Regions from separate parts of the Homo sapiens genome. Here region 2 is linked to region 1. Evidence: fine-mapped expression QTL. A gene starts in region 1. The other region holds a variant in brackets. All regions are shown on one strand. Distances are from middle to middle. Region 1 holds the start of CELA1 (chymotrypsin like elastase 1). Region 2 holds the start of BIN2 (bridging integrator 2).

Region 1 (15,969 bases):
CAGCCTTCCAAGTAGCTGGGGTTACAGGTGCACGCCACCACATCCAGCTAATTTTTAAAATTTTCATAGAGATGAAGTCTCCCTACATTTCCCAGGCTGGTCTCTAACTCCTGGGCTCAAGCGATCCTCCTGCCTCAATCTGCCAAAATCTTGGGATTACAGGCATGAGCTACTACACCCGGCTGGTTATATGTCTTATTGCCTCTTTATTTCTTACCCTTCGGACAAGCTTCTGCCCTCACCACTCCACTGAAACTGCTCTTGCCAAGGTTACAATTGCCAAAGTGGCCACTTTCAGCTCTTACCTACTGTGGCTTCTGGGTGAATTGTATATTATGTGATATCTGTAAGTACTTCCTGAGATTTCATAATATCCTTATTACCAGGTTTTTATCTTACATCTACTTCTCCTTTCTTAGATCCTAGTGGTTTCTTTATCCTCCACTTATCCCTGAAACACTCAAGTATTTATGTTCTGACAGTTCTTTCCCAACCCACTGCTCTTTTCTCATTGAACAGTTTTTCCCTGGAATGGGATCTGATTTGTTCTCAGTAGGTATCTCTAGCCCAGCTCTTCCCCCAGGCCCCACTTTTTCTATCTAATTTCTTGGCCAGGCGTGGTGGCTCATGCCTGTAATCCCAGCACTTTGGGAGGCTGAGGTCAGGAGTTCGAGACTTAGCCTGGCCAACATGGGGAAACCCCGTCTCTACTAAAAATACAAAAATTAGCCAGGTGTTGTGGCACATGCCTGTAATCCCGGCTACTTAGGAACCTGAGGTAGTAGAATCACTTGAGCCCGTGAGACAGAGGGGGCAGTGAGCTGAGATCGCGCTACTGCACTCCAGCCTGGGTGAGAGAGGGAGACTCCGTCTCAAACAAAACAAAAAAAACACCAAATTTCTTACTGGTTGCTATACCTGAATGTCCCACTGGGATCTCAGACAAAGGTTGTCCAGAACCAAACTCATCATCTTCTCTCTCAAACTCTGTAAATCTTGTCTCAGGGCAACAGTGCCCTCCCCCAAATCACTTAAACCAGATGCTTGGCTGTTGTTCCAGATCCTCCTCCTTCCCTCCTCCGGTTCCTATCACCACTGCCTTAATTCAGGCCCTCAAATTTCTTGCTTAGATCATTGCAATAGCCCTCTAGGCAATCTCCCTGCCTCTCTTGTCTTCTTCAAAAACATGCCTAAAGAACAATTCTAAAAGGTGAATCTGGTTGTGCTAGTCTCCTGTTTAGAAGTCTTTGATGGCTTCCCAATGCCCAAGAGATAAGGTTCATGTCCCCAAGCCTGGCATTTGAAGCCCTGAGTTGTACAGCTCTTGCTTGCCTCTCTAGTCTTACCTCCTGACATTTCCTAGTATGGTGGTAGCTTCTATTCTAGCCCACGGGTCAGCAAACCTCTTCTGTTAAGGGCCAAACAGTACATATTTCAGGCTTTGCAGGCCATACCGTCTTGATTGCAACTACTTTGTGTTGTACTACAAAAGCAGCCATAGGCTGGGCATGGTGCCTCACGCCTATAATCCCAGCACTCCAGGAGGCCAAGGCAGGAGGATTGCTTGAGGCCAGGAGTTCAAGACCAGCCTGGGCATCATAGTGAAACCTTGTCACTACCAAAAACAAAACAAAATTAGCTGGGTGTGATGGCATGTGCCTGTGATCCTAGCTACTTGGGAGGCTGAGGTGGGAGGATCATTTGAGCCCAGGAAGTTGAGGCTGCAGTGAGCCAAGATGGCACCACTGCACTCCAGCCTGAGTGACAGAGCAAGACCTTATCTCTTCAAAAAAAAAAAAAAAAAAAAAAAGCAGCCATAAACAGTTTGTAAATGAGCAACTGTGACTGTGTTCCAGTGAAATGTTATTTATGGGCACTGAAATTTTATATATTCTTCATGTGTCATGACATATTATTATTCTGATTTTTTTTCCTTACCATTAATAAATGTAATAATTCCAGCCTGGGCAACATGGTGAAACCCTGTCTCTACAAAAAATACAAAAAATTAGCTGGGTATGGTGGTATGTGCCTGTAGTCCCAGCTACTAGGGAGGCTGAGGTGGGAAAATCACTTGAGCCTGGGAGGCAGAGGTTACAAGTGAACCATGATGGTACAACTGAACTCCAGCCTGGGCAACAGAGTGAGACGCTGTCTCAAAAAAAAAACAAATATATATATATATGTATATGGCCAGGCGCGGTGGCTCATGCCTGTAATCCCAGCACTTTGGGAGGCAGAGGCAGGTGGATCACGAGGTCAGGAGTCCGAGACCAGCCAGTTCGAGACCAGCCTTGCAAACATGGTGAAATCCTGTCTCTACTAAAAATACAAAAATTAGCAGATGTGGTGGTGCGTGCCTGTAATCCCAGCTACTCGGGAGGCTGAGGCAGAAGAATTGCTTGAACCCGGGAGGCAGAGGTTTCAGTGAGCTGAGATTGCGCCACTGCACTCCAGTCTGGGCGACAGAGTGAGACTCCATCTCAGGAAAAAAAAAAAACATACACACACACACACACACACACACACACACACATACACATACGCATACATATATATATATATATATAGAAATCAAAATGTAATAACTGTTCTAAGCTCATGGGCCATATAAAACAAGCAGTGAGCTAGATTCGGCTTGTGGACCTCCAGCCGCTGCTCTACTCTAGCCTTAGGGAATGCCCCATAATTCTGTATGTACTCTAGGTTGTTTCTTGGCCCCCTGCCTTTATTCATGCCGTTCCCTCCCTCTGAATGTCTTTTCTCCTTTTTGCCTGGCCTATTCCTATTTGCCCCTCAGGACCCACTACAAATTCTAGTTTCTTGGGGAAGGAAAGTCTTTTCTGGCCCCAGTAGGTAGAGGTAGGTACCTACCCTTGGGCTTCCATATCACCTGTGCACATCCTGATTATTAACACTTAACCACATTGTATTACAATGTTCTATTGTATGTCTGTGCCTCTGGTTTCTTTACTTGACACTGTTTGATCCATCTTTGTAACCTTAGCACTTAGCACAATGCCTGGCATATAGTAGATATATAATGAATAGTTGTTAAACTGCATTAAGAAATCTGGGGTGGGGCATGGTGGCTCACGCCTGTATTCCCAGCACTTTGGGAGGCCAATGTGGGAGGATCACTTGAGCCCTGGAGTCTGAGACCAGCCTGGGCCACAAAGCAAGACCCCATCTCTATATTAAAATAATAATAATAAAAAAAGCTTAAAAAGAGAAATCTGTAAGATAGTTTATGGCTGATTGATCTTGTCAAAATAGAGGAAGGTTATATTTGTTATATATAAGCTATTATAAAATTATTTTGTGCACTTTCCCCTATCAAACTCACCTGTACATACTGCCAGAAATATCACTGGGGTAAAGGGATGGTGGTAGAGGAACTGCAAGAGAAGTAGGACTGATAGGTAAGAGGGAGCAGGGTACTGCTTATACAGCATCACAACCACCTGTCCAGGCTCAGCTGCATCGCTGCCATTAAAAAATCTAGGTAACAAATTTGGCTGGGCATGGTGGCTCACGCCTGTAGTCCCAGCACTTTGGGAGGCCAAGGCGGGTGGATCACCTGAGGTCGGGAGTTCGAGATCAGCCTGAGCAACATGGAGAAACCCTGTCTCTACTAAAAATACAAAAAATTAGCCGGGCGTGGTGGTGCATGCCTGTAATCCCAGCTACTTGGGAGGCTGAGGCAGGAGAATTGCTTGAACCCAGAGGCGGAGGTTGCAGTGAGCCGAGATCGTCCCATTGCACTCCAGTCTGGGCAACAAGAGCAAAACTCCATCTCAAAAAAAAAATCTAGGTAACAAATTCTAAGAACACACACATATACCAACAACAACATATAAATGTTGGGCCACGTACAAACTTTGAAGTGAGGGCATCGAGCAAGATCAATTTTAAGGTTCCTTTCAACTTTGAGTTTCTGCATGTGTAGAATTACCAGCACAGGATCATTCTCACTTAGACGCCAGAGTAGAAAATTGAGTCTGTGTAGGACTAAGAGTAAGTGTCGAATAGGGAGGTGAGGAAGAGGGGTGGAGGGATAGGCAGAGAGTGGCGGGACCTGGGGTGGGACCCCCTGCAAATGTTCACCTGGCATCCAGAGCGAACTCCATCTCCACCAGCACACACCATGGTGTTCTTCACAGTGGAGCCCCAGTAGGAGGAGCTGGAGCAGATGGCGTAGTCCACAGAGGGCAGGTAAGCCTGCTGCAGGGTCTGGGCCAGCTGCCCATTGGCTGAACAGGACACACGGCATTGGCAGTCAGCTCCAGATGTGGTCCAGCAGAAAAACCTTCCACCCCTGCCACACCTTCCCAAACTCTCGTGAAAGCTGAGCTCAGGGCAAACTCCTTCTCTCTCCCTGTTGCATGTGGTGGATCCTCTGTCTTCTCTCTTTATATGGCCGCACAGGACCCTTCCCTCAGGGAGGCAGCCTTGCTTACTGTACCTAGGCTCCAAGCCACCAACCCTACTCCTGCTTCTTTTCACTCGTGGATAACTTAGTTGCACCATGGAATGGCCTTATTTGTGGATGATTTATCTGTCTGTTCTGTTTGCTCCTGCAAGCTCCATGGAGCAGAAATGGGATTGTGCATGCTTGTTTCCATTTCTTTCTTTCTTTTTTTTTTTTTTTTTTGAGATGGAGTTTCACTCTTGTTGCCCAGGCTGGAGTGCAATGGAGCAATCTCGGCTCACCACAACCTCCGCCTCCCAGGTTCAAGAGATTCTCCTGCCTCAGCCTGCCGAGTAGCTGGGATTAAAGGCATGCACCACCATGCCTGGCTAATTTTGTATTTTTAGTAGAGATGGGGTTTCTCCATGTTGGTCAGGCTTAAGCGATCCTCCTTCCTCAGCCTCCTGAGTACCTGGGACTACAGACTCATGCCACCACACTCAGCTAAGGATCCTTAATTTCTCTGGACCTTGGTTTCCTCATGTATAAAATGAAGGGCTGGCTGGCTGCAGTGGCACATGCCTGTAATCCCAGCACTTTGGGAGGCCAAGGTGGGAGGATTTCTTAAGCTCAGGAGTTCGAGGCCAGCCTAGGCAATATAGCGAGATCCCATCTCTACAAAAAAATTTAAAAATTAGCTGAGTGTGGTGGTACATGCCTATAGTCTCAGCTACTCAGGAGGCTGAGGTGGGAGGATCACTTGAGCCCAGGAAGTGGAGGTTGCAGCCTGGGTGACAGAGCAAAACCCTGTCTCTAAATAAATAAATAAATTTTAAAAATGAGGGGCTGGTAAAAAAAATTCTCTGATAAAGTCTTTTTTTGTTCTAAGAGTCCATGAATCTGTCAACTACTTCACAGCCCATTCTTAGCTTGATATAATGCATCAGTTATTGTATCTATGGTTCTTTTAGCTCCTGGTCTCTGGCCATAAGCACCTAGGACCACAGAAAAAGGTGTCTTAGAAGCTCAGCTACCTAATCAAGATCCCCGTGGTGGATTGTGCCAATGTAGGCAACTTACTCTTGGTCTTGCCCCAGCCTGTGATGTAGCAGGGACTGTTGTTAGCCAGGATGGCTCCCTCCTGGGGCAGAACACCCAGCTGGACATAGCTATTGAGGGTAACGCTCTGGGCCAGGCGCAGCAGGGCGATGTCATAGCTGCAGGAGAAAAGGAGACTGCTCACTCATGGGATCAGCTCTTCCCTGAGGTCAGCATATACACTGGCCCTCTCTAAGCATTTGTATCCCCGTGGAATTGGAAAGTGACGACTTTGAAGAAGGACGGGGCTCACTTGCTAAGCCTCAAACTAGAGCAATTACAATTTAACATGTAAACATTCTATGTTTAACAGCAGCATCTGCTGGTGGGACATTGGTATTGCAGCCTAGCTCTGACCTTTGCAACCCCGGGAAGTAGAGAATGGGGGAATCTGAAAGGAGCAGAGTGGCATGATCTTGGTGGCAGAGTTCTCAAACAAGAAAAATGTAAAAGGCTGAGTGGCTCTACAAGCTCAGTAGAATATCCCAATTCCTTGAACCCACCCCCACCTGCACATGCTATAGAATTGACCACCGTTTTAATTATTTATTTTCCAGAAGTTTACAACTCAACTTGCAATTTTCCCGTGTAAGATTCACTTTAGGAAATTTACTTTTGCTGATGGAGTCTATTCTATAATGTGAATAATAAATAATGATAAAACCCCCCATAGAAACAGAACATTAAAATCTGCAGAGAATGGTAATCCACTGTGCAAACCAGCCTGGATCCAACAAATCCTAAAGGTCTTCAAAGACTCTCAAGCCCTCCAGAACGTCAGTTCTCTTTTTCTTATGAGACAGAGTCTCACTCTGTCACCCAGGCTGGAGTGCAGTGGCGCGATCTCAGCTCACTGCACCCTCTTCCTCCTGGGTTCAAGTGATTCTCCTGTAATCAAGCGATTACAGGCACATGCCACCATGCCTGGCTAATTTTTTTTTTTTTGTATTTTTAGTACAGACAGGGTTTCACCATATTGGTCAGGCTGGTCTCAAACTCCTGACCTCAGGTGATCCGCCTGCCTTGGCTTCCCAAAGTGTTGGGATTATAGGCATGAGCCACTGTGCCTGGCTCAGAACCTAAATTCTCAAAGTCCTCCTGGACGAATGAGCCAGCTCATTGCTCCCTCTAGGACATGGTGCCTTCTCTCAGGCTCAGCTGGGCTCCTTAACTAAAGGCCAGGCCAGGAGCCACGGACCAGGTTTCAGGCCATGCAATCCCTCTAGCCCTCTGAAAGAACAGGTGAAGGCAGCCAGTTGTTGGCTAGTCAGGCCTCACCGCCCAGCCCAGGGCCAGCTTGGACTTGCTCCTACCCGGCAGCCACGTTATCGCTGTTCCAGTATGGATGCACCACGATCTTCTGCACACTCACGTACTGCTCAGTGCCATCATTCTGGCTCAGGTTATGGTCTCCAGCCACCACGCGGAAAGTCTTCTGGCTGGCGTGAGAGAAGGAATCCCTGAGTCATCCAGGGGACTCAAACCTTCTCTACCCCACTTAGAGAAAAGTTGAAAAACCATCTTTTTTTTTAATCATTATTATTTAGGAAATTTTTTTTTTTTTTTAGAGATGGGGTTTTGCTGTGTTGCCCAGGCTGGCTTCAAACTCCCAGGCTCAAGTGATCCTCCCACCGCAGCTTCCCTAGTAGCTGGGACTACAGGTGTGAGCCACCGTGCCCAGGTTTTGTTTATTATTTTAGGACAGGAACCCATCTTATCTGGTCTAGGCAGAGGAGGGATATAAGACTCTCCAAAATGAGAAAGTAACAAGCTCTTTCATTCCCTAATTGACTAACTTGTGGAAGTGAAAAAAACTACCATCACTTTGATTTTCTCGGTTTAACATCATAGGCTGAATATCTTGTAAACTGGGAGAGGTGTAGTGCGCATAAATGAAATAATGGCTCTCAGCCACCAAGATTTTGAAGGAAGCATAGACTTTTAGGCTAGTTGTTCTTAAAGCGTGGTTCCTGGGCCGCAGCATGAGCATCACCTGGAAACTTGTTAGAAATGCAAATTATCAGGCCTCACCCTGGACCTACCAAATTAGAAACTCTGCTGGATGGGGCCCAGCAATCTGTGCCTTCCAGGTGATTCTGACACATGCTCAAATGTGAAAACCATTGCCCAAGACAAATAGGAAAAAATAGTCACCAGTCAGACATTGACTAGGCACTTACATATTTACTCAATCCTCACAACATTTCTACAAAGTAAATGTTCTTAGCCCACTTTAGAGATAGGAGAATGGGGGCATAGTTGCCCAAGGCTACATAGCTAGAATTTGGTGGAGCAAGATTTGAATTTGAGTCTCCCTGACTCCAAAGTTTGTACTTTCACCATACTACCTCCCTGCAGGCCCTGAACAGGAAAGGAGCCACTGCCCAGTCCCTGAAGTGCTGTCCAGAGAGGGCAAAATTATATCCTCTTTCAGAAGGTCAGCCCCTTCCCCTTCCAGGGGCCCAGGAAAGCTTGTCTTTGTTTTTCTTACTAATCCACGCAGTGAGCAGCTGTCATCACCCAGTTCTGTCTGATAAGGGTCCCTCCACAGGTGTGATACCGGGAACCTCCAGACCGGTACTGGAGGGAAATCTAGATGGGGAGGAAAGAAAGAAGGGATAGGTTGGTGTTTCTCAAATGGTTTTGCCCCAGGTCGGTTGCAGTGGCTCATGCCAGTAATCCCAGAACTTTGGAAGGCTGAGGCAGGAGGATCAGTTGAGCCTAGGAGCTGGAGACCAGCCTGGGCAACATAGTGAGACCTCGCCTCTACAACGTCAAAAATAATTAAATATAAAAGACTTTGCCTCAAACTACATGTCACCTCCTTAAAGTCCTGCTGTCCTTCAAAACATTCTCTTTCTAGGCTAGAGATGGCAAATAGGTTTCATCTGACCTGCCAATTGCTACTGATTGCTTGGTAGTGGCCACCTGGAGTGTGGCATTGATAAGGGGTGTGTAGATGCTTCTGGGGCCAGCAGGAAGGGATGCTCCATCGCTTGGTGATGTTTGCTGTGTACATGGATGGAGGAGTAAAGGCACACAGTGTATTTGGCATTATCTCTCTAGGTTGTTGCAATGGACCTAGAACCCATTGTAACTCCTTTTTTGGAACTCCTTCTACCTCTGTTCTCCCTTAAAGAGGAACTATAGGCCAGGCACCATGGCTCACGCCTGTGATCCTAGCACATTGGGAGGCCAAGGCGGGTGGATCACCAGGTCAGGAGATCAAGACCATCCTGGCCAACATGGTGAAACCCCATCTCTACTAAAAATGCAAAAATTAGTCGGGCGTGGTGGCATGCACCTGTAGTCCCAGCTACTCAGGAGGCTGAGGCAGGAGAATTGCTTGAACCCAGGAGGTGGAGGTTACAGTGAGCTGAGATAGCGTCACTGCACTGCAGCCTGGTGACAGAGCGAGACTCCATCGCCCCCTCTCCTCCCCCAAAAAAGAGGAACTATAGGCAAAGATTTGCTCCATCACCTAAGCCCAACAGGCTTAGGTCTCCAGAGCTGTACCTTTAGTGTTTTCAAGACATCTCCTGTCTCCCCACTTCAGGGACTACTTAGAAATACCAATGGGAGGCCAGGCGCTGTGGCTCATGCCTGTAATCCCAGCACTTTGGGAGGCTGAGGCGGGTGGATCACCTGAGGTCAGGAGTTTGAGACCAGCCTGGCCAACATGGTGAAACCCCGTCTCTACTAAAAATACAAAAATTAGCTGGGCATGGTGACAGGCGCCTGTAATCCCAGCTACTCAGGAGGCTGACGCAGGAGAACTGCTTGAACCCAGGAGGCAGAGTTTGCAGTGAGCCGAGATCATGCCATTGCACTCTAGCCTGGGCAATGAGAGCAAAACTCCATCTCAAAAAAAAAAAAATACCAATAGGATGTTTGTTTTTATCAGTTCATGTCTCTTCTTCTAGCACCTCATGTTATGTAATAGCTCTACTCCTGAAAACTGGGGCTCAGACTTTTATAAGCTAAAACTCTGATTGCAGTGATATCTTCTCAAAGTGTGGATCTTCATCAGTTAATTTGCCAGGTTTACATATTTAGATCACTTAAATCAGGGCCCAGCTGCCCTGTTAGCAAAGTGGAAACTCTAAATAGCCAACTAAGCAGCATGCTGTACGTGTGTGTGTGTGTGTGTGCGCGCACATGCGTGCAAGCATTGTGACACACACAGTGTGGAGTGGTGTGCGTGTGAGTTTCAAGGTATGTGGAGTCCAAGGTGACTGTCTGGCACCCAGTCTTTCTTGCGTGGCACAAGTGCTGTCGCTGAGAATATAAATGTATCTTGTGTTTGGGTGTGTGCCTTGAAGAGGGACTGTGGTTGGTGTATAAATCCCCTCCTCCAAGCCTTTTGCATTTAGAAAACCACCTAAGCCTGATCCCATCCATCTTTAAAATCGAGAACCTAGACAATTGGAGAGCTGCTTGTTGATAGGGACATGCACAAATACACATGATACCTTATGTCATGCACTGAGCTCTTATTTGGGTGGAAGTCTGGGGCTGGGAAGGAACACCCACCTGAGAGGGCCAGGAATTCCTCCCGGCCTCAGTCCCTCCGACTACGCGGGCATTGGTTTCCGGAAGGTCCTGGGTGCTGTGTCCTTTGTGGGGCAGAAGAAAAGTGAGTGATGACTAAGCATGGGGTCAGCCAGGGGTAGGGGTGGGGGGTGGCGATTGTGCTTTGAGGAATGTTAGCCTTGTCTGCAAATTCACAGTTCCTCTCTAACGAATGAGGGGCCCAGCTGTGAGTTCTCTGAGCCCCTTTTGAAAACAGGGGTGCCTGGGTGCCTTCTGTTTCCCCCAGGTGTTCCCAGAACTCCGGCATGCTATGAAGGACCTCTCTCAAACCACCAGGCTAGGCCCCAGAGGCTCCTTGTGGTCTCCTCTTTGCTCAAGATCACCCTTTGGCCTGAAGAGACCCCCCCCCACTCTTTGACCCCCACCAGCCCCCTAATGCTTTGGCAAGATTCTCCAGGGTTCAGGGCCTGCAGTGCACACCCCAGCCAGGCACCTGCTGAGGAAGTCCTCCTGTCAATGGGGGTGGTGGGGAAGCCCAGGGACCCACCCCACTACCAGATGGGGCTTCTCTCTGCTTTGTGGCCCAGGGACCTGCCACCCAGAGGGGCCTGAATAGCCAGTGGCCCTGACCTTTTCTATCTTGGCCTCCAGGAGAGTAAAGGACGCTCTGCAGGCAGAGCGTCCCACCTGCCCTGGGACAGGGTGCTGGCCTGGACTTAGGGAAAATTTGCTGACCTTCCTGCCCAAGTCCCCCTCCCTATAGACCTCAGGCCACATGATCCACTTACCATAAAGGACCAGGGTTGCGACTGGACCATATCCACTTACCATAAAGGACCAGCATGTTGCCGATGGAGTAGACCACTGCCTTCTTGCTTGGACCAAGCCCTCTTTATACTCCTCTTAGCAGCAAAGCTGACTGTCTTCTTGCCAACTGGCAGGGCTGAGGGTGCAAGGCAGGGAAAATCACAAGTGACATGGAAATACAAATGAAAATATTTCTTTTCAAGTAAACTAATGTATCTGTTATTCAAAGACAGAACAAGGCCAGGGCTGAATTAATCATCTGCTTTTAATTGAAAAGCATCCAACAAACTCTTTTTCAGAAATAAGATGGAGAACCAGGGCTGGTTTTTCTCTAAGGGAGCACCCCTTGTCATCCATCACTCTCTCGTTGTCCTCAGTGGCACCATAAATGCAGAGACTTGCCCTGTGCACTAGCAGCTGGAGGCCAGGGGGATAGTGGAAGAGGGGGGAGTGGTTAGCAAGGGCAAGGAAGACACAGCAACTCTCTCTGCCCAAAGAGGGAGATGGCACATGCCCCCAGGATGCAGGCATAGGTGTAAATGCAGACACAAAAGCCAAATAGATGCAGTGGAGATAATTCTGGGGGAGGAAAGTACTGAGAAACAGGCTTGGGCCCTCTCAGATGGAGAGCCAAGAAGGGGCTCCCAGAGGAGAATATGAGGCAGGGTAGAGGAGGGGATCCTTGGGATGTGAAGACAGTCTGAGGGCTATGAGGGTAGATGGAGGGTGGAGGGCAGAGGGAGAACGAGGGTAGGAGCCGAGGTTCCTGCAGGAGATGAAAGGCTTTGTTCATCACAGTTCGTAGAGGAGAGAGAAGGGAGTTGCGGCCGGGCGCGGTGGTTTACGCCTGTAATCCCAGCACTTTGGGAGGCTGAGGCGGGCGGATCACAAGATCAAGAGATCGAGACCATCCTGGCCAACATGGCGAAACCCCGTCTACTAAAAATACAAAAATTGGCCGGGCGCGGTGGCTCATGCCTGTAATCCCAGCACTTTGGGAGTCGGAGGCGGGCGGATCACGAGGTCAGGAGATTGAGACTACTCTGGCTAACACAGTGAAACCCCGTCTCTACTAAAAAAATACAAAAAATTAGCTGGGCGTGGTGGCAGGCGCCTGTAGTCCCAGCTCCTCGGGAGGCGCAGGCAGGAGAATGGCGTGAGCCCGGGAGGCGGAGCTTGCAGTGAGCCGAGATCGCGCCACTGCACTCCAACCTGGGCGACAGAGCGAGACTCCATCTAAAAAAAAACAAAAACAAAATACAAAAATTAGCTGGGCATGGTGGTGCGCTTCTGCAGTCCCAGCTAATCTGGAGGCTGAGGCAGGAGAATCGCTTCAACCTGGGAAGCGGAGGTTGCTGCACTCCAGCCTGGAGACAGAGCAAGACTCTGTCTCAAAATAAATAAATAAATAAATAAATAAATAAATAAATAAATAAATAAATAGAGAGAGAAAAGAGTTGCAATGTGCCTTGAGGTGGGCAGAGGACCCTTGGGTTGGCCACAAAATGATCAGAGCCACTGCAGGCTCCAGAGCAGAGGACTGTGGGTGCAGCAGTCATGGTAGCAACGCATGGGGTTTGGAATTAGGCAGGGAGAAGCCAGGAACCTAGACAGAAGCAGGACCATCACCTGCCCACCCAGGGCTTTTGTTGCCTAAACACTCCAGAATCCAAGCTTCATGGCTGCAGGGGTGGGAGAAACCTGGAAAATGCTCTTTGAAGGAATCTGCACAGTCACTTTTTCAGTGTCTAGAGCTGTTCAGAGGAGTTGCACTTTGATGCTCAGATAACCTGAAGAGCTTGCTCTCCAGCCTGCCCTCCAGCATTCTGGCACACTCAGGGAAGAGGGGTGAGCTGCGCTAGGGAACCCGGGGCCTCTTTGGTCATTCTCCTCCCGCTTCCCTGCTTCCTCTGGCCTCTAGCCCCAGGATGAGGAGTCCAAGAGGAGGCTTGAGGGCCTCCTGAAGGTTACCTCTTTACATCACAGCAGGGCCAGATCACCTGAGGTCAGGAGTTCCAGACCAGCCTGGCCAACATGGTGAAATCCCGTCTCTACTGAAAATACAAAAATTAGCCAGGCGTTGTGGTGTAGTCCCTGTGCTTGGGAGCTGTAATCCCAGCTCCTTGGGAAGCTGTGGCAGGGAGAGTTGCTTGAACCCTGGAGGTGGAGGTTGCAGTGAGCCGAGATTGTGCCACTGCACTCCAGCCTGGGCAACAGAGCAAGACTCCATCTCAAAAAAAAAAAAAAAAAAATCTTACTCTTAGGGTTAGGCATAGACAATGGCTTAAATTTTTTCTTTTTTTAAGACAGGGTCTCATTCTGTTGCCCATGCTAGAGTGCAGTGGCATGATCTCAACTCACTGCAACCTCCATCTTCTGGGCTCAAGCGATCCTCCCACCTCAGCCCCTCAAGTAGCTGGGACTACAGGTGCCAGCCACCATGCCCAGCTAATTTTTGTATTTTTTGTAGAGACGAGGTTTCACCATGTTGCCCAAGCTAGTCTCAAACTCCTGAGCTCAAGTGATTCACCCACCTCAGCCTCCCCAAGTACTGGGATTGCAGGCATGAGCCACCCGCCCAGCCAGACAATGACTTAAATTTTGAGGCATTGCATTTCTTCTGACATTGCATACCAATTCTAGGAATGAATTCTTTTGAGATAAACACTGGTCGGGCATGGTGGCTCATGTTTGTAATCTCAGCAATTTGGGAAGCCAAGGCGGGAGGACTGCTTGAGGCCAGAAGTTTGGTATCAGCCTGGGCAACATAATGAGACCTTGTCTCTACAAAACATGAAAAAAACATGGTGGCGCATGCCTGTAGTCCCATTACTTGGGAGGCTGAGGTGGGAGGATCCCTTGAGCATGGGAGGTCGAGGCTGCAGTGAGCCATGATTGTGTCACTGCACTCCAGCCTGGGTGACAAAACAAGACCCAGTCTCAAAACAAAACAAAACAAAAAAACAGGCAGAAAAATAAATGTTCGAGGTTGTGGGTTACAGTATAGTTTGTCACAAAGCTTGTTGCAAAATTGGAAAAAAGCTAAGTATTCATCAGTAGAGGAAGACTGAATAAATTGGGTTTAACCCTGCTATGGAATACTATATAGCTTTATTATTTTTTTGAAACAGAGTCTCTCTCTGTCACCCAGGCTGGTGTGCAGTGGCACGATCACAAATTACTGCAGCCTTGACTTTCTGGGCTCCAGCAATCCTCCCACCTGAGCCTCCCAAGTAGCAAATTTCACTTTTTTAAACCTCACTTTTCTAGATCACTTGACTTTTCTCCACAATATTACTTTAAAAAAAACAAAACAAAACAAAATGGAGTCTCTCTGTGTTGCCCAGGCTGAAGTGCAGTGGCACAATCTTGGCTCACTGCAACCTCCACCTCCCAGGTTCAAGCGATTCTCCTGCCTCAACCTTGCGAGTAGCTGGGATTACAGGTGCCCACCACCACGCCCAGCTAATTTTTGTATTTTTAGTAAAGACGGGGTTTCGATATGTTGGCCAGGCTGGCACAGTATTACTTTGGTAATTAAAAATAAGAATAAATTCTGGGACATCTAGCTATTTGTGGCAATGGCCCCAGTACTCTTCATGTGGGAAACAGATCCCCAGAGAGGCCTAGCTCTTTAATGCTAGAGTGAGAGACTCCTAGAGCCGGGAGATAGTAGCACAGGGCTAGCAGCAGGGTTTTAAGAGGTAGGGGCCTTAGGTTAGCTGAGAGTGGTCAGAGGGGTGGGTTTTAAGGAAGAATACGGGTGTTGTTAGGGCCAGGCCAGGCTTGACTAAGGAAAATGCCATGAAGAAGCTAGTTTCTTGTTTGTTTGTTTGTTTTTTTGAGACAGAGTCTCACTCGGTCACCCAGGCTGAAACACAATCTCAGCTCACTGCAACCTCTGCCTCCCAGGCTCAAGCGATTCTTGTGCCTCAGCCTCCCGAGTAGCTGGGATTACAGACGCCTGCCACCACGTCTGGCTAACTTTTGTATTTTTAGTACAGACTGGGTTTCGCCATGTTGGCCAGGCTGGTCTTGAACTCCTGACCTCAAGTGATCTGCCCGCCTCGGCTTCTGAAAGTGCTGGGATTACAGTTGTCAGACATTGGTGCCTGGCCAAAGCTAGTTTCTTGAGCCTTCCCACCACTCCCATCAGTGCCTTCTCCCTCTTCTCCACCACCTCCCTTCCCTAGTCCTCCCCTCATCCCTGAACCCAGACCTCCTCTCTAGACACAGCCTGTGTCTCCCTCCTGCTGCATCTCCCACTCCCTGCGAGTAGCTCTTGGCTGACTGTGCCTGGGAAGTGCTATGCTATTTGGGGGCAGGTGGAACCTTCTTGACACAGCTGGGCACCTTGGTTGGGCTACATCATATGATTAGGCTGGGGAGCTGTTGGGTGATACCATAGACAGTATGAGGGATACTGGGATCCACGTTTGGATATTTAATGCAACCAAGAATAAGGCTAGGGTTAGGCTCCACGACTCCCTGTGGCTTACCGGACCTACCAAAGCCTCTCTCAACTGGGCCCCAACCCACTCTTGTACGGGGCTGAGTTACCCAGTAGGCACAGCAGGTGCAGTGCCCAGGGCCCATAGAAATGTTTTAGCTTCTTTTAAAACCAGAAGAAATAAAGTAAATCCAATCAGCCTGGATTACATTCATCTTTATACCAACATAGTCATAACATTAATTTTTTTTTGAATGGAGCAAGAGCTCCGTGAAGGCTAAAGTGCCTAGGGCCCCTGAAATTCATGATGTAACTCTGATCTTCCAGCTTCTACACCAGTCACTCCCTCACCCCAATGTCCTCTGGGTTTCTCAGACCCACTGGGGCCACATGTCCTCTGTGGCTTTGCTCCTGCCAGGCTGCTGCCTGTGTAACAACTCTGCTTATTGAGCCCTTCCCATCTGAGGACTCATCTTCCGAGGTCTTAGGTCAAACATTGCCATCTTTGTGAGGCCTTATCTGATTCCCTAAGTGGAAGGAATTGCTCCTTCTAACTCATCCAGCACCTCTTGGAGCATCTCCAGGCTTGCTATGATTTGCTTACATTTAGCGTGTGAGTTCCACGGGGACAGGACCTCGTTTGACGTCTCACGTCTCCACGTGCTTGACA
Region 2 (12,631 bases), 16 kb before region 1:
ACCTACCAATCTCTTTTGAGCCTTGTTTCCTTATTTCTAAAACAGAGATGCTAATAACCTGCTTAAAGTGTTGAATAGATGAAGGGAGATGACATCGGTAGAATGTTGGCTCCATAAAGGGAGAGAGAATCACTTTGTCTTTTTTTTTTTTGAGACAGAGTTTTGCTCTTGTTGCACAAGTTGGAGTGCAATGGCGCGATCTCGGCTCACGGCAACCTCCGCCTCCCAGGTTCAAGCGATTCTCCTGCCTCAGCCTCCTGAGTAGCTGGGATTACAGGCATGCGCCACCACACCCGGCTGATTTTGTATTTTTAGTAGAGACGGGGTTTCTCCATGTTGGTCAGGCTGGTCTCGAACTCCCGACCTCAGGAGATCCACCTGCCTGGGCCTCCCAAAGTGCTGGGATTACAGGCGTGAGCCACTGCACCCCGCTGATAATCACTTTCTTATATCCCTGTCTCTGGTCCATAATAGGCGCTTGATATTTGACACATTTCACTATTTGACACATTAGCTATTACTTATTACTCAGAAGATTACATCCAACTGCTTGCAGAAAAAGCAAAAAGTGTTGCAAGGAATTCTTTCATTTTAGTGCAAATTTCTCCCTCTTTATCTTGGTCTCAATAACTTCCCAAGACTCAAGGACTGGCTTCAGGCTGACGGAGCTGAGCTCCCTTCCGGCATCCCAGGCCATTCCCACCTTATCGAAGTTCAACCTTTGCCTACCCTTTTGTCTAGTCTAGGTTCAGAATATCTTGTTTTCTTCATCAGCTGGGAATTCCTCATGGCAGATTTGAGTTTGCTCCTCTTTCTCTACTTCCTCAGGGTTCAGGCCAGAAGAACCTGAGAGACTGGTTCTGTCTTTGGGAAGTATTTGACTCTGAGTCTAATGTGACAGCTTTTCAATTTAGTGTTCTTACCATATTGAGTTTCATCAAGAACATCAACCCTCTCATTTTACAGGTGCAAGATCTGAAGCCCAGAGCAGGACATTATTTAGCCAAGGTTTGGAGTCTATGCTTACAAAGGAGTGAAAGCCCAAAGCAAGGTTTTAGTGTTGACGAGAGGCTAGATGAAGACAGAAGATGCAAGAGTGAAATACAATCAATTGTATGTCTTTTATTTTTATGTATTTATTTTTATTTTTTGAGACAGAGTCTCCCTCTGCTTGAGTGTGGTGTGGTGTGATCACTGCTCACTGCAGTCTTGATCTCCTGGGCTCAAGCAGTCCTCCCACCTTGGCCTCCCAAAGTGCTGGGATTACAGGAGTGAGCCACTGTGCCTGGCTGGTATGTCTTTTTAAAATTACTATCATTCATGAGTGTTTTGTCTTTTAGGGTTTTTTTTTTTTTCAACCACAGTGTGGCCTTCTCTCCAGTACCTCCTGCTCGCCCACACTGTTTCGAGCTAGACCTTCCCATAGGCCCTGCTCTCGGGTCTACCAGATTTGTAAGTCTTCAGAGAGGCTGAAACTAGGATCAAGGTGAAGTTAGGGTAAGTGAAGTAACGAAGTCTGGCTACACGAACTCTTTCCCTTTTCCTCCTCTCTTTCACATGACCTCAAATGATAGAAAATAACCTCCCTTCCATTGTGGTCTCTTAAAGTCAGGAGCTACATCTACATTCCATCAGTTTTCTGCTGATAAATCAACTCGGGAGAGCTGGTTGCCTTTAAGCCTTCCCAGGGCTCAAAGCAGTGCTCCACTTTTAGAAGATAATAGGGATATTTCAGTTGGTAAGCAGAGCTGTTCATCCAAATGCTTCTAAGTCCATCAGCTCTTAGAAAACCAAAACTTCTCCGTTGTAGAAGGCAGGTTGGGCTTAATAAAGAGAGAGAGAAAAAAAGGAAAACCGAAACTCTATCTCAGGTCCTTCTTGTCTTTCTTCCCTCGCTCTTTCTTCTGGCTGACATGTCTTCCCAAACCGCCTTGTCTACTAGAGGGTTGGTAGGTGGAGAGCAGAGGCTCAGGTTAGAAGCAAAGAAAATATTCTGTACAGGTAGAAACAAAAATGCCATCAAAATGTGTAGAGAATGTCCCCACAATTTAGATTGCCAAGCAAGTAATAGATGGGCAGCCCACCTAAGTGCCAGTGCTGGAGCAGGGCTACCTGACACTAACCAAGGACACACTCTGAACACAGATGTGGTTCATCACCCTGGGAGGTGTACTCCCCAACGCCAAAGGGAGGGTAGAAGAAGCAGATTTGGGCTCCTGCTTACGTCAGCTGAAACACCACCCAGAGGCCAGGCAGGGTCAGGTAGGGGGAGAACTATGCAGGATTATTCTAAGCCTTTGGTGGGGGGTGCCTGCTGGCATCCGCTGCATCGCTGTTTTTGGGGAAATTGCCCTCTATGGAAAATTACCCTCCAATTTCATCATCTGTAAAATACCAATTTTGGATTGCTAGCACAAAATTTGATACAAAGGTGGCCACCACCATCACTTCCTTTCTTTCACCTTTTCTGGGTCAGCCTGAGGGTTGTCGAAGGTTCTGCCCAGAGACTGTTGTCTCCCCAGCTTCCCTTATCCTTGCCCAAGATCGGGTGGCGGTCTCCGACCTCTCTCCAATCTGCCAGTTTTCATGGAAGCCCACTCCTCGCTCCCGTTTCCCTGGGAGAGCGGGAGACCCTTCTCGTCAGCCCAGACCCTTCGGGGCCCCTGAGCACCCTGCCCGCCCCTCCTGCCCGGCCGGGCTCGGCCTCGGCCTCGGCTCCCTGTGGGCCAGACAGACAGCGAGGCCCGGCCACCTACCTTCTCCTGGGCCCTGCTAAACTTCTTCTGCACCTGCTTGGCGAAGAGGCCGGCCGCGCCGCCTGCCTTGCCCTCTGCCATCCTGCCAACTCCCTGGGGGCCGCCGCCCTGGCCCCGCGCCCTGTGGTTTTCTGAGGCCCCCGAGGAGGAAGTGCGGGCTCCCGGCATGCCTCGCATCCGGCCCCAGCCCTGAGCCACCTCAGGCCGCCCCTGGCCAGCCCTGAGGCCCGCCCCTCAGCCCACCACTGTCAGCTGGAGCAGGCCGGCTCGGAGGGGCGGGCCCGGGGCCTACCCTCAGGCAGCGCTCGCTCGAGGCCAGCTTCCGAGCTCCAACCCCTGCCCGAAACCTCGGCCTCACTGAACCAGGTCCTCAGTGGTGGGCCCACACTCACTCGCTCCGGAAAGCCAGTTCCCATCACGCTGAGCACTGCAAAGCAACTGCCACCGCAGGGTAGAAAATGATGTGGGTTCCACTCAGCGAGAGGACCTACCATATCGAAAACACGTTTAGGTTCTCTGAGTATGCATGCGAAGCCGCCATGTACACTGCGTTTCTTGCTCCAGGTAGGCTCTAAGCCTGGAACTGGTAGGGATAGAGTGCAGAAAGCAGGCAGGACACCCGAGCCGGGCTTGAAAGAGAGAAACAGGCCGGGCGCGGTGGCTCACGCCTGTAATCCTAGCACTTTGGGAGGCCGAGGCGGGTGGATCGCCTGAGGTTAGGAGATCAGCCTGACCAATACGGTGAAACCGCGTCGCTACTAAAAATACAAAAATTAGCTGGGTGTGGTGGCGCACGCCTGCAGTCCCAGCTACTCGAGAGGATGACGCAGGAGAATTGTTTGAACCCGGGAGGCAGAGGTTGCAGTGAGCCGAAATCGCGCCACTGCATTCCAGCCTGGGCGACAGAGCGACAGTTCGTCTCAAATAAATAAATAAATAAATAAATAAATAAATAAATAAATGAGGAACAACTAAGCTGGAGATAGAAACAGGGTAGGGGGCTGGTTCTTAGGCAAGAGAATGATCACATTGAAAAAAGGCTGAGGAGGATAGTATGGACGCCCGTGCTGAGCATGAGGAGCAAGTTTTTCTAGTTGGAGTACAGTGTACTGGATGGAGGCAGAATGTGAACACAGACACAGATTGTGCAAATTGGGGTGCGGCTGTTGAGATGACAACTATTGTTTCTTTAGGGAGAAGTTCTCCAAAAAATTCCTCCCTGACCTGTTTGAGGGGATAGCTTGAGATTAGGACACTAGGTGTGGAGGAACCACGTACTCAGATTTTACAGTGCAGGTTAAAATTTCCTCAAGGCAGGGAAGAAGGTCAAAATAACACTTCCTAAGGAGTGGAGGGGGAAGATAGGGCCTGACACAAAATTAGAGGCCCTTGTATGCTACTGTGTTCCTCTTCTTTCTCCAAAACAATCATTACTGCACTCAAGGTCAACTGTGTACCAGGCATTGCTGGGTGTTCTGAAACAAGGATGAATAAAATGCAGTCCCTGACCTTAAGATGCTTAATGAAGTCTGGCCGGGCACCACGGCTCACACCTGTAATCCCAACACTTTAGGAGGCTGAGGCAGGCAGATTGCTTGAGCCCAGGAGTTTGAGACTAGCCTGCGCAACATAGCAAGACCTTCTCTCTGCTAAAAATACAAAAATTAATTGGGCGTGGTGGCACACACCTGTAGTCCCAGCTATCAGGGAGGCTGAGGTGGGAGGATCACCCGAGCCAAGGGAGGTGGAGGCTGCAGTGAGCCCTGATGGTGCCACTGCATTCCAGCCTGGGCAAAGCGTGAGGCCCTTTCTCAACCAATAAAGAATAAGTATTAATAAATAAGTACATAAATAAAGATGCTTAAAGTCTGGAAGTGGAGATAGGTGGGTAATCAGGTGATTCTAATGTAATGTGCTTAATTTATTTGTAGAGATGGATACAAAATTTTCTGGGAATAGGTGATTAGGGTTTGTTTGTTTGTTTGTTTGTTTGGAGACAGGGTCTTGCTTTGTTGCCAGGCTGGAGTGCAGCAGTGCCATCAGGGCTCACTGCAGCCTCTACCTCCCAGGCCCAAGTGATGGTCTCACCTCAGCCTCCTGAGTAGCTGGGACTAAGGTGCGTGCATGCCACCACTCCTGGCTACCCAGGCTGATCTGGAACTCTTGAGCTCAAGCAATCCACC[C/G]GCCTCAGCCTCCCAAAGGGCTGGGATTACAGGTGTGAACCACCTTGCCCTGCCAGGCGATTAGGGTTTATTCTGGATGTTAGCTTTGGTGATGCCCTGGAAGAGGCAGGGTGATGAAAATAGAAGGACTTGATATTGGATGGGGAGAAGTGGGGAGAAGCATGGAGAATAGCAGTACTGCGGGAACACTGAGAGTAGATGGCAATGCTAACAGGTGTGTCACTGGCAGAAGGAGGCCAGTACCTGTGTCCCTGCCAGGACTACATGGCATCCTCAGCAATGCAACCCAGCCACTGTCTCCTAAGAAACTCTGTTTAGTGCCAATATCTTGCAAACTGAAATTGATGGTCACCAAATCATGTAGTGTTAGAGAAGAAACAACCCTTAGAAGTTAATTAGATAGGGAAATTGAGTCACAGAAAGGGCTGATGACTTGACCACAGCCACCCAGCTCCTCAGTGGTGGAACTGGGATGGGAACAGACTCAGCCTCTTATAGCACATGGAGTGTTCTAGAGGCCTCTGCTGAGCCTGTCAATTCCAGGGTCTGTCTCAGCCAGTTTCTCCTTCTGTAATGTTTAATACCCTAGTCCCTCTTGTCTGGTCTTAAGTGATTGACATGAAAAGCTGCTTCTCATCCTTTTTAGCCTTCCCCTTTCAGTTCCCCCTTTGCTTTCTCATAGGCCACTCTAACAGACTGAGCCCTGGCCAGGATACAGCAGAATTATCAGTTTCCCAGTTCTCTGTGGTTTATAGAACCCTGGATCCGGTTGCCTAATTTTAGTCCCAGCCTTAAAGTGCTGATTCACACTTAGCTTGAGGCCCTATGTTGTTGTTGCCTCTTCCTTTCTGTTCTGCCTCTTCCCCTCAACCCTTTCGTTTCTTTGTTTAGTATCTTCTCTTCTCTCCTTTTTTCTATTCTTAGCTCTCCAGTCTCCATTGTTGTTTTTTTTTTTTTTTGAGACAGAATCTCACTTCATTGCCCAGGCTGGAATGCAGTGGCGCAATCTTGGCTCACTGCGGCCTCCACCTCCCAGGCCCAAGCGATTTTCTCCAGTCTCCTTTCTAATTTGTCACTTTCTTAGTCTGCTGGTATCTGCCCTGCCTCCTAATCTTATACTTCTATCTCTGGTGTATCCTAGTAGTTGCCATCACCCAGAAACTTGGAGTGGGCGTTCGTTTTAGGCACTAAAGGGGGAAACAAAAGAAGGATGAACCCACAGTATACCTGGGAAAGACAGGGCACATTCAGTCACTCAGGAAGTTTTTTGTTTGTTTGTTTTGAGACGGAGTCTTGCTTTGTTGCCCAGGCTAGAGTGCAGTGGCACGATCTCAGCTCACTGCAACCTCCACCTCCTGGGTTCAAGTAGTTTTCCTGCCTCAGCCTCTTGAGTAGCTGGGATTCCAGGCGCCTGCCACTGTGCCCAGCTAATTTTTGTATTTTTAGTAGACACGAGGATTCACCATCTTGGCCAGGCTAGTCTCGAATTCCTGACCTCGTTATCCACCCACCTCGGCCTCCCAAAGTGCTGGGATTACAGGCGTGAGCCACCGTACCCAGCCCACTCGGGAACCTTTTTTTTTTTTTTTTTTTTTTGAGATGGTCTTTCGCTCTTGTTGCCCAGGATGGAGTGCAACGGTGCAATCTTGGCTCATTGCAACCTCCACCTCCCGGGTTCAAGCGATTCTCCTGCCTCAGCCTCCCAAGTAGCTCTGTGCCTTCGAATATAGCAAATATCCACAGGAATAGGGCAGATGGACAGATTAGTGGATACATAGATCCTAAAGTAACCCAAAATGGATAACATAAAGCTACTCCCACTGGGTTTGTGTTGTGGACTGGTAGAGGTAGCAGCAAAGGGAAGACCCAGCCTGCAGATGTGGTGAAATCCAACTTGGATCCTATAACTGCATTTCTTCTAAATCAGTGGTCCCCAACCTTTTTGGCACCAGGGACCCGTTTCGTGGAAGACAATTTTCCACGAACCGGGGTGGGGGATGGTTTCGAGATGATTCAAGGGCATTACATTTATTGTGTACTACATTTCTATTATTATTACACTGTAATATATAGTGAACTAATTATACAACTCACCATAATGTAGAATCAGTGGGATCCCTGAGCTTGTTTTCCTGCAACTAGACGGTCCTGTCTGGGGGTGATGGGAGACAGTGACAGATCATCAGGCATAGGGACCCCTGCTCTGGAGGGCTTAATTACAAATAGACACAGTATGATAATGTATATCTAGTTTTATTTGCTTTTCTATCAATGGCTCAATAGTCTTTCAGAATGTGTTTTACTTTTTGATCGCAAGTCCTACTGCAGATCTAAGAACCATTTTGGGAAGGTCGTTGGACTCAGGAAAATGTTCAGTTGGAGGCGATGACCTGAAGGAAAGACAGTTATGTCCACAGTCAGTAACTCCTGCCTACCTCCTTTCTTGTTTCCTCAGGGCTCCCAGTTAAGTATGGTTTTGTACTGGGTTTATGGGAAGTTGACAGGGTGTGGGGACAGGGAGGCAGGAAGTCAGCCTCAACTGTGATAGGACAGCTCAGTGTTATAGGTACATACCCAGAATACAGTGGCAAAGACAGACCTTGAAATGGCCGTGAGCCAAGATTAATACACAAGGCTCCAGAATGTGTTTGAAGGGTGGAGGGCACAGTGAAATGTGTTGTGTGGCCTTTCCACCAGGTCAGTGTAGGCAGAGCCTCACCTAACTCTCAAGCATTATTTAAGGTGGTAAAACCTGTCAAAAATTAGAGCAGGCCGGGCGCTGTGGCTCATGCCTGTAATCCCAGCACTTTGGGTGGCAGGTGGATCACTTGAGGTCAGGAGTTCAAGACCAGCCTGACCAACATGGTGAAACCCGATCTCTACTAAAAATACAAAAAAAATTTACCAGGTTTGGTGGTGCATGCCTATAATCCCAACTACTTGGGAGGCTGAAGCAGGAGAATCACTTGAACCCAGGAGGCAGAGGCTGCAGTGAGTCGAGATCAAGCCACTGCACTCCAGCCTGGGTGACACAGTGAGACTCTGTCTCAAAAAAAAAAAAAAAAAAAAGTTAGAGCAAATTATCATAATGTCCTTAGAAAGACGTTGTGGGAGAGGAAGTCGGTGCCTCCTTCCCTTGCCTAGGAGTACGCAGGCCTTTCTGAACCTGTTTTTCCCTGGGCTTTGACTTAGGAAGGCACTGATATGTCCCTGATTCAGATTTGATGTTGCCACTGTCTTACCCTAAGCAATAAACAATACAGTGAAGTCTGCTCTGTGGGTATGTGGAGGGGAGGGAATTCAGGATGGCAGCCTTATTGAAGGAAAGTACACCGTGGAAGGAAGGGAAGGGAGTAAACACATGAATGTGGTAAGGAAGATGACGGCTTGCCCAGTCCATCCAACGTTTGTTCCCCAACCCAGCCAGTGCGTAGGTCTCCAGGTGACCCCATTTCAACCCATCATTTGAGAGGACTCACATTATTTATCCAGGAGATGTAAGCAGAGACCTGGGTGAAGACTGTAGGCTTCCTGGAGACATTACAGCCCCGGCTGGACACAAAGCTGGTCACTCCATGGACAGAATACTTGCCATTCACCAAGCAATGGAGGGGGCCCCCAGAGTCACCCTGCAGGGAGGAGAAACAGAATCCTAAAACTCCAGATCTTCGGGCTTTTGCTTGCACTCCCCCCGCCCCCGTCTCTGGTTGTGAAATTCTGTACGGTTTTAAAGCTCCAATGCAAATCTCCACCTCCTTCATGTCCCCACAATCAAAATGAATCTCTTCTTCCTTTCTAAACAACCACAATACTTCTTCTCTTTTGCTGCACTTATTTCATGTTCTGCCTTGTATTTTGGTTTCATAATTTGTTTGTACCTCCTCACACATGTCTATGAGCTTCCTGAGACAAAAACTCTTACCAAGATCTTTCCTCTCCACAATGCTAGCATAGAACTTTAAATATCTAAAGTTCAATCGCTTTTATTGGCTTAAATTGAACCTGGGGTGGCAAAAATAGGGCATTCTAATAATTTCTTTATCCCCAGCATTTAGACCAATGGGTATAATTAGACCAAGTATTTAGACTTGGTAGTCAAAACATGCTAAACTAAACTGGAATGAAGAGGAAAGTGATGTATTAGGTCACATGCTCAACTGGGAACCTGGGTTTATGGAATATGATCTTGCCTCCCTTCTTACTCAGCTTCTAGAATGCCAGGTCCATAATGCCACACATAAAATGGGAAGATACTTCTCTGGAAAAACTGAACAGTCCAAGAGGAAAGACCTAAAGATACTGACATTGGAGGTCCTCCACTAAAATGGCCTAGCCAGATCACCTGACAGAGAATCCACTATTGATGAACCCCATCTAAGGCTCAGAGCTACCAATCAGCCCACCCACTCTGGGTAAAAATACCACCCCCACTCTGAAATAAAAGCAGATGGTTAAGGATCACTAAACATCTAAAGAATGCCTCTAGCCGGGCCCAGTGACTCATGCCTGTAATCCCAGCACTTTGGGAGGCTGAGGCGGGCGGATCACGAGGTCAGGAGATCGAGACCATCCTGGCTAACACGGTGAAACCCCATCTCTACTAAAAATACAAAAAATTAGCCGGGCGTGGTGGTGGGCGCCTGTAGTCCCAGCTACTCGGGAGGCTGAGGCAGGAGAATGGCGTGAACCCGGGAGGCAGAGCTTGCAGTGAGCCAAGATGGCGCCACTGGGCTCCAGCCTGGGCGACAGAGTGAGACTCTGTCTCAAAAAAAAAAAAAAAAAAGGAATTCATCTAATATAAAAATAAAGATTGAAACAAAGAAACAAGGAGCTAAATAAAAAAATGAAGGCAACCAAGACTATGCAGGGAGAAGAAAACAAGCAATAAAACCATAACTAATAGGCTGGGCATGGTGGCTCCACACCTGTAATCCCAGCACTTTGGGAGGCTGAGGCGGGCGGATCACCTGAGGTCAGGAGTTCAAGACTAGGCCAACACAGTGAAACCCCTAAAACTCTATTAAAAATACAAAAATTAGCCGGGCGTGGTGGTACATGCCTGTAATCCCAGTTACTCAGGAGGCTGAGGCAGGAGAATCGCTTGAACCCAGGAGCTGGAGGTTGTAGTGAGCTGAGATTGCACCACTGCACTTCAGCCTGGGCGACAGAGCGAGACTCCGTCTCAAAACAAACACACAAACAAAAAACATGACTAATATGCATCCATGATACAAGAACGGCATACTACTAAACAACATTCAGACAGCAAAAAGAGCCTTTGGAAATTACAGATTTGATAGATTTAGAAATGAGAGACTGGAAGAGTTGGAACATAAGATAGAACAAACAAGATATAGAGAAAACAAGAGGACCAGCTTAGGAGGCAAACATGTGAATAACAGAAATTCTAGAAAGAGAAAAGTGAAAATAGAGTGGGAGGAAATCAACAAATAAACAACATTTTCTGGATCAAAGGTCTGGAGTTTCCGGGAAAACCCACCCATTAAGTATCCCTCACAACGAATGCAAATAGATCCACATAGACCACTAGGTCAAGAGAAGATGATATAGGTCACTTAACAAATTAGTGGAGTGTGTGGGGTTGAATTAATGAAAAACTGACTATATTAAGCAAATGAAAAAGACAATTTTTAACAGACATTGAAAAAATTGAAAAAGTTGTGCAGCAAGGGCTGACCTTGGTGGTTTATGACTGTAATCCCAGCACTTTGGGAGGCTGAGGCAGGAGGACTGCTTAAGCTAAAGCCAGGAGTTTGAGACCAGCCTGGGGTACAAACCGAGACCCCCATCTCTATTAAAATTTTAAAAAATCAGCTGAGTGTGGTGGCATGTGCCTGTAGTCCTGGCTACTCAGGAGATTGAGGTGGGAGGATTTCTTGAGCCCAGAAATTCAAGGCTGCAGTGAGCTGTGATTGTGCTACTGCACTCCAGCCTGGGTGACAGAGTAAGATCCTGTCTCTTTAAAAAAAAAAAAAAAAAGTTATGCAGCAAATGAAAAGTAAACCTAGAATATATTACATGATTTTGTTGTAAATAGCATTTTATATAATCATAGTAAATGCCGAATGTTGATCTAACCAAAATATTTTGAGAGGTTGAGATGGTGATCAGAAAATGTCATGCTTGGAGGGCAGGTATGTATATATAAAAAATAAAGAGAATCACATCTGCCATAATGTCAACACAAAAATAGCAGTGTAAGTATATAATTTTAAAGATGTAGACACCAAAAGAATCAGCTGAAGAGTTGAAAGTGGCCTCCCATGGGGTGGGAGAACTAGAGTAGCTATTCTTTTCCATTATTGAGCCCCATAATCTTATTTGCCAATTTAAGCTTCAATAAAAAGTAAAACTTGGGGCCAGGTGTGGTGGCTTACACCTGTAATCCCAGCACTTTGGGAAGCCGAGGTGGGTGGATCACGTGACGCCAGGAGTTTGAGACCAGCCTGGCCAACATAGCGAAACCCCGACTCTACTAAAAATACAAAAAAAATTAGCCAGGTATGGTGGCTCATGCCTGTCATCCCAGCTACTGAGGAGGCTGAGGCACAAGAACCCAGGAGGAGGAGGTTGCAGTGAGCTGAGATCACGCTACCGTACTCCAGCCTGGGCAACAGAGCAAGACTCTGTCTCAAAAACAAACAAACAAAAGTAAAACTTAAAAAAAACTAGGGAAAGAGACCAAAATTTCAAACTGGGATAATTCTGTGTGTGTTTGTTTTGAGATGGAGTCTCGCTCTGTCGTCCAGGCTGGAGTGCAGTAGTGCCATTTCGGCTCACTGCAACCACCACCTCCCAGGTTCAGGTGATTCTCCTGCCTCAGCCGCCTGAGTAGCTGGGAGTATAGATGTGTAGCCCCACTCCCCGTTAATTTTTTTTTTTTTTTGAGACTGAGTTTCGCTCTTGTTGCCCAGGCTGGAGTGTAATGGCATGATCTCAGCTCACTGCCACTTCCGCCTCCTAGGTTCAAGCAGTTCTCCTGCCTCAGCCTCCCAAGTAGCTGGGATTACAGGCATAAACCACCACACCTGGCTAATTTTGCATTTTTAGTAGAGATGGAGTTTCACTATGTTGGTCAGGCTGGTCTTGAACTCCTGACCTCAGGTGATCCACCCACTGTGGCCTCCCAAAGTGCTGGGATTACAGACATGAGCCACTGAGCCCGACTGTTTTTTTTTTGTTTTTTTTTTTTTAAGACAGAGCCTCTGCCCAGGCTGGAGTGCAGTGGTATGATCATAGCTCACCACAGTCCCAATCTCCTGGGCTCAAGCAGTCCTCCCACTTCAGTATTCCAAGTAGCTGGGACCACAGTGTGCGCCACCTCGCCCGGCTAATTTTTTAAATTTTTGCAGAGACAGGGTCTCCCTATGTTGCTGAGGCTAATCTCTAACTCCTGAGTTTAAGTGATCCTCCCACCTCAGCCTCCCAAAGTGCTGGGATTATAGGCATGAGCCACCACGCCCAGTCAAGGGTAATTACTTTAAAGTGGAACTACCTGTACTCCACCCTAACTGCTATTTAGGAAACGATGTTTTCTTTAGATTATTGTACTCAAAACAAAACAATCTCTTCCACCAAAATTCTATCAGGGATTTGAGAGTATTTCAGGGGCTAGAGGAATGATAGATAAATGAATTGTATATAATACTATTGTCTTGTGCTAATTGACCC

Evidence for each region.
Region 2: its variant is fine-mapped to the expression of CELA1 in lung (TOPMed, PIP 0.95).

What each region holds. Positions count from the first base shown.
Region 1 is chr12:51,335,753-51,351,721 of GRCh38, forward strand. It overlaps CELA1 (chymotrypsin like elastase 1), which reads right to left and starts at 10,927. Exons shown (of 8, transcript NM_001971.6): 1 at 10,871-10,927; 2 at 10,043-10,125; 3 at 8,001-8,101; 4 at 6,823-6,948; 5 at 5,492-5,628; 6 at 4,108-4,253. The coding sequence starts at 10,886. GALNT6 (polypeptide N-acetylgalactosaminyltransferase 6) reads right to left here. Exons shown (of 12, transcript NM_007210.4): 12 at 15,500-15,969.
Region 2 is chr12:51,321,266-51,333,896 of GRCh38, forward strand. BIN2 (bridging integrator 2) reads right to left here and starts at 2,909. Exons shown (of 13, transcript NM_016293.4): 1 at 2,757-2,909. The coding sequence starts at 2,837. It overlaps CELA1 (chymotrypsin like elastase 1), which reads right to left. Exons shown (of 8, transcript NM_001971.6): 7 at 8,419-8,568; 8 at 7,177-7,329. The coding sequence ends at 7,312. It overlaps LOC105369767 (a long non-coding RNA gene), which reads right to left and starts at 2,743. Exons shown (of 2, transcript XR_944957.3): 1 at 2,463-2,743; 2 at 1,103-1,938. RefSeq lists an enhancer at 2,435-2,624 and silencers at 2,655-3,144, 5,840-6,134. The variant C/G (reference allele first, on the strand shown) is at 4,940.